3 linked regions of the Homo sapiens genome follow. The protein of the gene in region 2 interacts with the protein of the main gene of each other region in a pairwise test. Each region holds a gene or a part of one and is shown on either strand. Other genes may lie near its edges. The genes, in order: TEX44, CPT1B and GOLT1A.

The links.
Region 1: the proteins of CPT1B (region 2) and TEX44 interact in binary tests that used the Homo sapiens proteins (3 or more experiments, as listed by UniProt).
Region 3: the proteins of CPT1B (region 2) and GOLT1A interact in binary tests that used the Homo sapiens proteins (3 or more experiments, as listed by UniProt).

What each region holds. Positions count from the first base shown.
Region 1 is NC_000002.12:231,591,421-231,594,868, reverse strand, and holds TEX44 (testis-expressed protein 44), read right to left. Parts: upstream 2,006-3,448; 5' UTR 1,918-2,005; coding exon 730-1,917; 3' UTR 593-729; downstream 1-592.
Region 2 is NC_000022.11:50,575,481-50,579,701, reverse strand, and holds the start of CPT1B (carnitine O-palmitoyltransferase 1, muscle isoform), read left to right. Parts: upstream 1-1,274; 5' UTR 1,275-1,316; intron 1,317-1,684; exon of another isoform or gene 1,685-1,767; 5' UTR 1,768-1,786; coding exon 1,787-1,927; intron 1,928-2,238; coding exon 2,239-2,378; intron 2,379-2,667; coding exon 2,668-2,845; intron 2,846-3,064; coding exon 3,065-3,166; intron 3,167-3,366; coding exon 3,367-3,504; intron 3,505-3,589; coding exon 3,590-3,667; intron 3,668-4,221. Other genes in the region: CHKB (choline/ethanolamine kinase), read left to right, coding at 195-276, 447-521. UniProt on the Homo sapiens protein: Catalyzes the transfer of the acyl group of long-chain fatty acid-CoA conjugates onto carnitine, an essential step for the mitochondrial uptake of long-chain fatty acids and their subsequent beta-oxidation in the mitochondrion.
Region 3 is NC_000001.11:204,203,917-204,207,563, reverse strand, and holds part of GOLT1A (vesicle transport protein GOT1A), read left to right. Parts: intron 1-3,647. UniProt on the Homo sapiens protein: May be involved in fusion of ER-derived transport vesicles with the Golgi complex.

The sequences.
Region 1 (3,448 bases), on a different chromosome or scaffold from region 2:
CCCTTAGTCTGAGGCAAACCAGGACAGTCGGTTTGCTTAGACTCCTGCTCCCTCTGCACCCCCAGCTCACCGGAGGATAATGATAATGGCAGCCACCATGTGTGGGCTTATCAAGTGCCAGACACCATGCATTATGGCCTGCATCGCTTCCCTTCTGTCTTATAACAGTGTCATGGTATGGATTTATTCTCTCCTTTCTACAGCTGAGTAGGCTGAGAGTGACGTGATTCGCCCAGGGCAAGTGCTGGCGCTGGGGTTTGAACCCACATGGTGTGACTCAGTACTGTCAACTGCACTGCCTCTTCTGCCTCTCAGCTTGAGCCCGCCAGGCCAGCCTAGGCCCCTGGGAAGGCTCCTCAGGAGCTTACCTGGGTGGAGGTTCAGTAGGGATGGGTTTTTGCAGGTCTGAGACACCCCCCGCCACACTGCCTCCAGCTCTGTCCAGGTTCTTCTCTGCACGTTTGCCCCCAGCCCCTGAATGGGACAGCCTGAGAAACCCTCAGGGGACGCTGTTTCCACCGCACCCCGAGCCCTCCTGTCCTGTCACCGTGTTGCTCACTGCACCCCAAGGGAGGAGGCTGGTGCTTAGAAATAAATGCTCACTGGTGATTTATTGCATGGGCTGGGGGAACCGTCCAGAGCAAGAATGGGCAAGGGAGCAGGGCGTGAGGGTCCCAGGGATCTCTGGAGGCCACTGAACCAGCCCTTCGGGGGTCCCTGTGCAGGGCTCTAATCATAGTTGGGGTCAGCCTGGGCCTGGCGTGGGGTGAGGTGGCTGGTCAGGTAGCGCATGGCTGAGCGGATGCCCTCCACGGTCCTCTGCTCCACTGTCTCCAGCACACGGGTGATGGTGCGCAGGGCTGAGCTGGTCCCTGACACCAGCCCAGAGGAGAAGGCCGAGCTGACGCTTCCCACCAGGCTGGGGACCGAGCGCAAGCTGGGCCCCGAGCTGTGCAGCAGGTCTGCCACAGTGCTGTGGCCGGAATCCAGGAAGCCTGTGGCTATGGCCATGCCCATGGTGGTCTCGGACCACACCAGGATGTCTGCCAGGGAGCTGATGGAGCCCTCGCCCCTGTCCAGCAGGCTGGTCATGGAGCGCATGTAGCTGTTCTCCTCACTGGCCGTGTACAGGCTGGAGTCCAGGGGCCTTCTCCCCAGGGCCACCTCGTGGGGGCCAGGCGACGGGGACACACTGCCTGCTGGAGGTGGAGGGAAGAACCAAGTCTGCAGGTCTCCTAAGCTGTCCACCACATTTGCCCCCATTGCCACTGGGGACTCATCAGATGGTAAAGCTTCAGCTTCAGGGTGTGGGGCCTTTGGATGCTCAGCTTTCTCCTCAGCAGACTTGGTGGTGCTGGCAGCCTGAGGGCCATGCTGGCCATTGGCACCTGCTGTGACATGGTCAGCATCACTCTCGACGGGCTGAGCCTCCATGTGCTGGGTGGACTGTAGCTCAGCACTCGGGGCAGAGGGGGCTGACTCCGGCTCTCTCTCAGGAACACTCGCCATTTGTGACATCTTGTCTTTACCCAGGAGGTGACTTGGGAAAACCACTAGACTCTGACTTGTCCTTGCGTCTTGAACCTGCCTGTCCCACGCTGGATTCTGAAGGCTCATAGACACTTGCAGGGGACTTGGATTTTGGCTGGGAAGCAGAGGTGTGATTTTTCTGGGTGTCTTCTGGCCGTGTTCTGGAACAACTGCACTCTTGTCTTTGTCTCCAGATGTTGATATGGCCCTGGGGGTGGCCGTCTTGAAGGAGGCCTGATCTATATCCTGCCAGTCAGTGGATGCGACAGAGCTGCTCACTGCCAAGACATCTGCTGTGAGTGGGACCTGACCTTGGGGCTCTCCTGCTGGGCTGTCCTTAGACCTGCTGTCATCCACGTTGCCCAGGGGGTACCCTGGGAGTGCCATGTATGGGGCTGCTGGTGGAGCCGGCCTCCCCCTAGGGCTCTCCTGTGGTCATCTATGCCCTTTGCTGCTTGTGGCGGTTGGAGGGAGTGGCTGCAACCCAGCTGGGCTGAGTTGTCCAAGTGGTGAGGTCACAAGGGACTGTGGCCACTGGTGATGTCACAGGTACCCATAGAGCAAGGGTCTTGAGCTTCTGGAGCAGCCTTCCAAGTGGGCTAAGTCTATGGGACAGTTTGTTGCCAACTTTGCAGGTACATAGGGAAAAAATGACAAATGTTCTTGAAAGGGCTGGAGGCGTGTGCACAGGGGCAAGTACAACCACAGGGACACAGGAGGAGTGACAGCTGTGACTCTGACAAATGAGAAGGGATGCAGATGTTGATTTAGAACAGTGTTTATAAGGGACCCCTCCTGGCACCTCTCTGTCTACACTGGTGCCTCAAGACCCCAATTTAGGCTGGGCATGGTGGCTCACTCCTGTAATCCCAGCACTCTGGGAGGCTGAGGTGGGGGGATCACCTGAGGTCAGGAGTTCGAGACCAGCCTGGCCAACATGGTGAAACCCTGTCTCTACTAAAAATGCAAAAAGTAGCCGGGCGTATTGGCGTGCACCTGTAATCCCAGCTACTGGGGAAGCTGAGGCAGAAGAATTGCTCGAACCCAGGGAGTGGAGGTTGCAGTGAGCCGAGATCGCACCATTGCACTCCAGCCTGGGCAAAAGCGTACTCCGTTTCAAAACAAATAAACAAACAAAACAACAACAACAACAAACAACAACAAATAACCACCCCCAATTTAGTCAGTGTTCCTGCAGGGAATCAGTTTCCCAGCAGTGGTGAGTAGGTATAAGCAAAAGCCAAGGGCCTGGGCAGCTCCATTTGTGGCTGTGGGTTTAACCCTTTTGATGTAGGGCAAAAATCTCTATCTTCTCCTTGCTCATCTGGACTAGAAGGGCAGAGAATAACAAAAGGTCTGCAGACCTCTGAGTGTTTCTTGGAGAAGGATAACCCCAGATACACCTACTTGTGCTTAGCTGGGCACGGTGGCTCATGCCTGTGATCCCAGCACTTTGGGAGGCTGAGGCGGGCAGATCATCTGAGGTCAGGAGTTTGAGACCAGCCTGACCAACATGGAGAAACCCCGTCTCTACTAAAAATACAAAATTAGCTGGGCGTGGTGGCACATGCCTGTAATCCCAGCTGCTCGGGAGGCTGAGGCAGGAGTATCGCTTGAACCCCGGGAGGCGGAGGTTGTGGTGAGCCGAGATCGCACCATCGCACTCCAGCCTGGGCAACAAGGGCGAAACTCTATCTCAAAAAAAAAAAAAAAAAATGCCTACATTAAGAAGATGTTTGGAGAGGAAGGCTCAGTCGGTCGTGTCTGTGCTTCTCCAGGGGTTATCAGCTAACATTTAGTGACTGCTTATGGGCAGAAAAGGGCGCATAGCATCCTTCTCATCACCCATCACCTCTGGGTAGGTACGGTTCTACTAGTATACTCAGTTTACACACAGGCATGCTGAGCCTCACAGAGA
Region 2 (4,221 bases):
TAGGGCAGAGCAGAGGAAAGAGGGATTGGGGAAGAGGCAGATTTATCAAGCTGCAGGGAAGGTGGCTGTGGAGAGTGGAGTTAGGACAGTGGGGGAGAAGTTAAAACTGTAGGGATTGGCCAACCTGGGTGAGGGGATCCAAGCAGTGCTAGACATGCTCTTGAATGCCCCTCCTTTTCCTGCCCTCCCCCCAGGTATGCTCTGGCATCCCATTTCTTCTGGGGTCTGTGGTCCATCCTCCAGGCATCCATGTCCACCATAGAATTTGGTTACTTGGTAAGTGACCCTGGGGATGGGAATGCTAGCTGGGGGGCTGGGGAGCAGCAGCAGCCACACTCTTCCAGGAGGCCTGGGGAGTCCCGGGTGGCTGTGGGCAGCCTGAGGTGGATGTAGAATGCTGGTCCCACGTCTTCTCACCACTGTGTGGGGTGGGTTTCCTTCCCTAGGACTATGCCCAGTCTCGGTTCCAGTTCTACTTCCAGCAGAAGGGGCAGCTGACCAGTGTCCACTCCTCATCCTGACTCCACCCTCCCACTCCTTGGATTTCTCCTGGAGCCTCCAGGGCAGGACCTTGGAGGGAGGAACAACGAGCAGAAGGCCCTGGCGACTGGGCTGAGCCCCCAAGTGAAACTGAGGTTCAGGAGACCGGCCTGTTCCTGAGTTTGAGTAGGTCCCCATGGCTGGCAGGCCAGAGCCCCGTGCTGTGTATGTAACACAATAAACAAGCTTCTTCTTCCCACCCTGTCCTGGCCCTGCTGAGCAGCAGCAGAAAGTACCAAACCGAGCAGTACACACAAAGGGACTCTTCAGTGCTCTGGGATTGAAAGTGGTTAGCGTTCATGCTGCCAGTTGGGGTCCCCCATCCCTCCCCAGTCCCCTGGCTGCAGCTTAGAATAATAAATACTAGGACTTGGGGAGGAGGAGAGTGATGGGGGTATGAAGACGACCCTGAGGTGGGGATGCCGCCCGGAGCACCAGCGATCCCAGAACAGGCAGCAGCTGACACATCGGTGACCTTTTCCCTACATTTGGCTATTTTTAGCTCTAAAGCCACCATCCTCACGAGACTCTGGGGCCCCCCAGGCTCCCAGACCTTTGAGCAACCTTCACCGCACAGAAACCCAGCCGCGCCCTGCAATTCCCACCGCGGAAGGTGGGTGGGTTCTGGTTCTCGCCCCACGTTTTTCCCCGACCCCGATTTGGGAGTAGGTGTCAGGTTCCTGGTGAGGGCGGGGCGGGGGTGGCTAGGCCTGAAGGACGTGGGGACACGGGCCAGAGTGGCTGGCCCCACGCACGGACAGGAGTGAACCCGAGCTGTGAGTAGGGGCCGGCACAGGGCGGCCCGCGGGGGTCTGGGCCCTCAGCCCTGCACAGGGGCGAGGACGGCGCTGGGGCCCGCGCGCTCGGGTGGGGAAGGGCGGGCTCCCGAACCCTGCCTCTGTCCAGGCCGGCTCCACTTCCAGGGGCGCCTCTCTCCCCTGCCCGCGCCCTCGCTGACGCCCCCCAACTCCAGGCTGCCCTTCGCCGTCCTTGGGGCTCCTGGAGCTTTCAAGGCCCAAATCCCCTGCACCACAGTGGCTGTGCCCACCCGGAAGGCTGGCGCGAGGATTTGGCGGCGGTTGGCCTGGCGGGGGGCGCGGGCCGGGGGCAGCCGCTAGTCGCGGGGTGGGGGGCGCGAGGGGTCGCGGACTGGCTGGGGGCGTCTCGGCGCGGCTGGCGGCGGGGCCGGCCTAAGCGCGCCCGCGCACCCATCTGCCCCCGTCCTAGGTGCCGACCAACCCCCAGGATGGCGGAAGCTCACCAGGCCGTGGCCTTCCAGTTCACGGTGACCCCAGACGGGGTCGACTTCCGGCTCAGTCGGGAGGCCCTGAAACACGTCTACCTGTCTGGGATCAACTCCTGGAAGAAACGCCTGATCCGCATCAAGGTGCGCACAGGTGCTTCTCCCAGAGCGTAGGCAGAGGCCGGCTGTCAGCTGTTAAGCGCTTTGTTAGGGTCCCTCACTGCCTCCTTGGCTGGCACTTCTGCCCGGTACAGGTTGTGGAAGTACAGACACCAGAGGGGTGCACAGGATGTGGTCGGACACAGGGAGCTGTGGGTGTGGCGGAGGAAGGAGCACAGCAGGGCATCAGGAGAGAAAGCCTTCCAGGCCAAGACCAGGAGCCAGTTCCCAAGACTTCACAGGCAGGCTAACCTCCCGCCTTCCGGCTCCATAAGGGCGCCTGTTTCTGCCCACAGAATGGCATCCTCAGGGGCGTGTACCCTGGCAGCCCCACCAGCTGGCTGGTCGTCATCATGGCAACAGTGGGTTCCTCCTTCTGCAACGTGGACATCTCCTTGGGGCTGGTCAGTTGCATCCAGAGATGCCTCCCTCAGGGGTAAGGAGTGAAACTGGAAGGGCACAGGTGCCACCAGGGAGGGCTGGGCCCAGCTCCCAAGGCTGAGGTTCCTGAGCTGGGCAGATACAGGACAGCAGCCATTGGCAGTCACGGGGCAGCCCTCCCCTATGACAACCATTGTCTTAGCCCTACATCCGCTCATTTGATGCAGTCAGACATGAGTGTGCCCAGGGAGGTTCTTCCCCTTGGTGTCTCCCCTGAGACAGTTCACAGCCACCCGAGGCTGGCCTCAAGAGGACCCCCTGCAGCCCTTGCCCCTCTCCAATAGGTGTGGCCCCTACCAGACCCCGCAGACCCGGGCACTTCTCAGCATGGCCATCTTCTCCACGGGCGTCTGGGTGACGGGCATCTTCTTCTTCCGCCAAACCCTGAAGCTGCTTCTCTGCTACCATGGGTGGATGTTTGAGATGCATGGCAAGACCAGCAACTTGACCAGGATCTGGGCTGTGAGCAGCAGCCAGTGGAGGGGTTCAGGCACCTGGGTTGAGACTCTTTGGACTCCTTTGGGGTTCTGAGCTAGACGGGAGAGGCAGACAGGGCACTGGTGCCTGGTGTGTGGTTTGTCCTGGAGGGGCTGGGATGGCTCTGAGGGTCTCAGGGAGTTGCTGGTTGGTTTCCATTTTTTCCACTGGCTCCCACCCCAGCACTCTGCTCTGTACCCCCAGATGTGTATCCGCCTTCTATCCAGCCGGCACCCTATGCTCTACAGCTTCCAGACATCTCTGCCCAAGCTTCCTGTGCCCAGGGTGTCAGCCACAATTCAGCGGGTGAGGGCCTCGCTTGGGCATCCCAGTGGGCAGGGGAGGTTGGATTCAGGAGATGTTTCCAAATATAAGGTTCTGTGCAAAGAGTGGCCTTAAGGGCTTGAGAATAATGGGGCTGGGTGAGGAGGGAGAGGTGGGAAGAGGATTAAGATAGAGGCAGCCCTTGCCATCTGGCCCCACGGTGATGATAACTGGCTGGACAGTACCTAGAGTCTGTGCGCCCCTTGTTGGATGATGAGGAATATTACCGCATGGAGTTGCTGGCCAAAGAATTCCAGGACAAGACTGCCCCCAGGCTGCAGAAATACCTGGTGCTCAAGTCATGGTGGGCAAGTAACTATGTAAGTTCCTGCCCCTGGGCTCACTGTCACCTGCCATGTGTCCTGGCTGCACCCGCCCCAGCTCTAACCTTCCACCTCCCCACAGGTGAGTGACTGGTGGGAAGAGTACATCTACCTTCGAGGCAGGAGCCCTCTCATGGTGAACAGCAACTATTATGTCATGGTATGAACTAGAGCCCCCAGGTCCCCGCACGTGCTCAGCTCTGTCCCAGCTCCAAGGCAAGGGATCTGGAGGACAGCCCAGAGCTCTAGTAGCAGCTTCCGTGGGCAAGTGGGGGTTATGGAGTGAGGCCTGAGGGAAAGGGAAGAGAGAGAGGAGATCCTAGAAGAGTCCAGAAGCAGCTTAGGGGCAATGGGGATCCTAAGGATGAGGAGAGTGGAGACCGCCAGCCTGCCACCGCTTCTCAGAGTCCCGGGGTCACTGCCCCTGCCCAGCTCGGGCTCTGTCACCTCTTTCCTTGGTTTCCTCACTGGCCTCCTGGCCATGGGTTCCCAGCTGTCCTGACACCATAACCAGGGAATTGTCTAGAACGTGTCTTGCTTTGTGTCCCTCTGCAGAGCCGGACAGCAGAATGGAGGCCAGGCTGCTGCTTTTAGAGCTCAGGAAGTCAGTCTGCCTCTGCCCCATGTAACTGGCCCTTCTGAGTCTCTGGGTCTCCCAGCCACCTGGGCTGTATGGCATGCCTCTTCTCTCCTTTCCCACGGTCCAAAGCACAC
Region 3 (3,647 bases), on a different chromosome or scaffold from region 2:
CCTGGCTTTTCTTAAAGTGAGCCACAAAATGGGGAGTCAGGGAAGCCTGGCTTGTCCGTATCGGGTGGCCATGGGCTCTTCTTGGCAGCAACTCGGGAGTTGCAGAGCAAGGAGCTAAACAAGGGCACCAGTGCAGCCATCAGTGTACCTTGCCAGGGAGATCTAAAGCTGGTCTCTGAGGTCTGGGGAGGTCTCCACTTCTAGGTGGCGCCTGGAGAGCCGGGCCTCCCTGAAGTTACCTTGGCCTCCCAGCTTTTTTCGGCTGGGTGTAGGCGTGACAGCCCTGGCCGCCTCCAGCAGAGGGCGCGCTGCCCAATCTGTCTGGATCACGGGGACCGTGCCGGGCAGGCACACCTGTCACTCCTGGGGGCATCTGTATGACATCCCCACCCCTCCACTCTTTCTGCCATGGTTGCTGCCTGAAAAGAACTTTAGGAGTAACCTCTGGCTGGATAACTTGACTAAAATAGCTAAGCTACTCCAGAAGCAAGAGGCAAAGGCGGGTCTGAAGCTTGTGTGTGAGAAACAGAGTTTCTGACCCTTTTCTGTGGGGTTTCGTGTCCCACTGAGCACTGAGAGCACTAAGTGTGGCCCATAAAGAAGGCTGCCCCCATCACAGGAGAGTCCTGGAATTGCATCTGCCCTTAAAGAAGAGTGTAGAACAGGTGGAGGAGGGATAACTATGGCAGCCAGCAAATCACTGCTGCAGAAGAAGAAGGAATAAACAGGAGAATGGACATCATGTGTGAATGTGAGAAACTTACGCTGTTTCCACAAAATGAGTATGAGGCTGTTCTTAAGTGTGTGCAGGATGAACATATAGAAAGTTCAACAAAACGAAATGAAAACCCCGTAAAATGTGCACATCGTGTTTCCACACAAATACACCTACTGAGGGGGAGGAAAGGGTGTATAGTCAGAGCTGAAATCAATGACAGATGTTTTTATGGCAGGCATAAGCCAACAACAGATATTTTATAACAAGCATAAAAACCTAAAACACTTTTATCATTTGGGTTAAAGAAAGATGACTGTGGTCTTCCTCCACAATATTCTGACCTACACGAAATTATCTTGGTAATTCAGGTAGATGTAACTCTAGATTCTCAATGTGTTGTCTCTGAGGATGGAAATGTTGACAAAACACAACCTTCATCATGACCCATGGGGGTGATATTCTGCTGAGCTGTCCCAGCTTCTAAGAGATTTAATTCAGGCCAGCAGGAGGAGGTAGAAGTAGGAAACAAGCCCAAATAGATCACGAGGCTTGTCAGGAACACAAGGAATCAGCTTTTAGTAGAAAATGGATTCTGGGCAGCTGGGTGATATGTTGAGAGAAATTATGTTACACTGGGTCCCAACAAAATCCAGCTTCTGCCAAAAGTGAGATCCAGTAAGACTGGCATGATACCAGACTATGAGTTGAGCAAGGTTTCAGTCTATAATTTGAATGCTAGATCTTATCACTGTATTTTTCTGTTTTCTTTTTTTTTGAGATGGAGTTTTGCTCTTGTTACCCAGGCTGGAGTGCAGTGGCATAATCTCGGCTCACTGCAACCTCCACCTCCCGGGTTCAAGCAATTCTCCTGCCTCAGCCTCCCACGTAGCTGGGACTAGAGACGCATGCCACCATGTCCAGCTAATTTTTGTATTTTTAGTAGAGACGGGGTTTCACCATGTTGGCCAGGCTGGCCTTGAACTCCTGACTTCAAGTGATCCACCCACATCAGCCTCCCAAAGTGCTGGGATTACAGGTGTGAGCCATTGAGCACCTGGCTTCATTGCTGTATTTTTGATGATTCTTTTAAAGAAGCTCTTTGACCTTTTTTCTGTATTGGAATTGATCCTAATCCTCTTAAAATCTGCATAGCAACAGATGATGGATTAACTACCCAGAAGATGATTATGTTGTTTCATTTTCTTTCAGTTGTAAATAAAACTCAGCCAGTAAATCTAGTCTTGATAATTTTGTTTTTGTTTTTACAATTCTGCCTCTAAACACCAGAATAATTTTTCCCCTCACTTTTAACAACTATCTGCAAAAGCATAATAATAATACCAATTTCATAGAGGTTATGAGAACTGATTCTAACAAGTCCAGTAAAATTTTTGACGAGGGCATCAAGACCATGAAATGGGGAAAGAACAGTCTTTCCAACAGATAGTGCTGGGAAAACTGGATATCCACATGCAAAAGATGCAGGTGGATCCTTACCTTATACTATCTGCAAAAAGTAACTCAAAGCAGATCAAAGCCCTAAAAATAAGAGCTAAAACTATAAAACTCTTAGAATAAAAAATAGGGGAAAGCATTACAGCACTGGATTTGATAATGATTTCTAGGTTATGACATGAAAAGCACAGACAACAAAAGAAAAAAAAGACATCAATCAGACTACATCAAAATTTAAAACTTCACCGCATCAAAGGACACAGTCAACAGACTGAAAGGTAACCTACAGAGTGGGAGGAAATATTTGCAAATCATACGCTACATAGTTAATATCCAAAATATATAAAGAACTCCTACAACTCAACAACAAAAAGAACAACCTGTTTAAAAAATAGGCAAAGGACTTAACTAGACAATTCTCCAAAGAAGATATACACATAGCTAACAAGCACATGAAAAGATCATTAATCATTAATCATTAGGGAAATGTAAGTCAAAACCACAATGTATACTACCTTATACCCATTAGCATGGCTGCTATCAAAACAAAACAAAACAGATAAAGTATTGGCAAGATGTGGAGAAATTAGAACTCTTGTGTACTGTTGCTGGGAATGTTAAATGGTGCAGTCACAATGGAAAACAAAATGGCAATTCCTCAAAGAATTAAAAATAGAATTACCATGTGATCCAGTATAATTCCGTTAATTCCACTTTGTGGGGTATATACCTGAAAGGATCGGAAGCAGTGTCTTGAAGAGATATTTTCTTATGCTCATATTTATGGTAACACTATTTACAATAGGTAAGAGATGGATGGAAGCCACCCAGATGTCCATCAACAGATGAATGGATCAACAAAATGCAGGGTACAGATAGCAATGGACTATTATTCTGTTTTAAAAAGGAAGAAAATTCAGACACATGCTACAACATGAAGGAACCTTGAGAACGTTATGATAAGTGAAATAAGACAGTCACAAAAAGACAAATATTGTATGATTCCACTTATAGGAGGTTCCCAGAGTAGTCAAAAATTCATAGAGAAAGTAAAATGGTGGTTGTTGGAGGCTGGTGGGAGGGGAATGGGGAGCTACTGTTTAATGGGTGTAGAGTTTCAGCTTTGCAAGACGAAGAATTCAGGAGATGCGCTTAATACCACTGAACTGTACATTTTTAAATGGTTAGATGGTAAGTCTCATTTTATGTGCACGTTGCCACAATTTAAAACTTAAAAAGGTAACAATTTAAAAACAAAGCAACAGAATGAATTTTTATTTATTGACTATCATAGTGGCAAAGATAAGTAAAATGAACAATTCTGAGTGCTGGAGAGGGTTAAGGAAAAAAGGAACTATATATCCGGTTATTGTACAAATCGTCTTGAGGGGAGCGATCTGAAATATGTTTATCAAAATGTCAAAAATGTAGCCCTTGACCAAACGAGGGGGCCTTCATGTCCTGCACTTCTAGG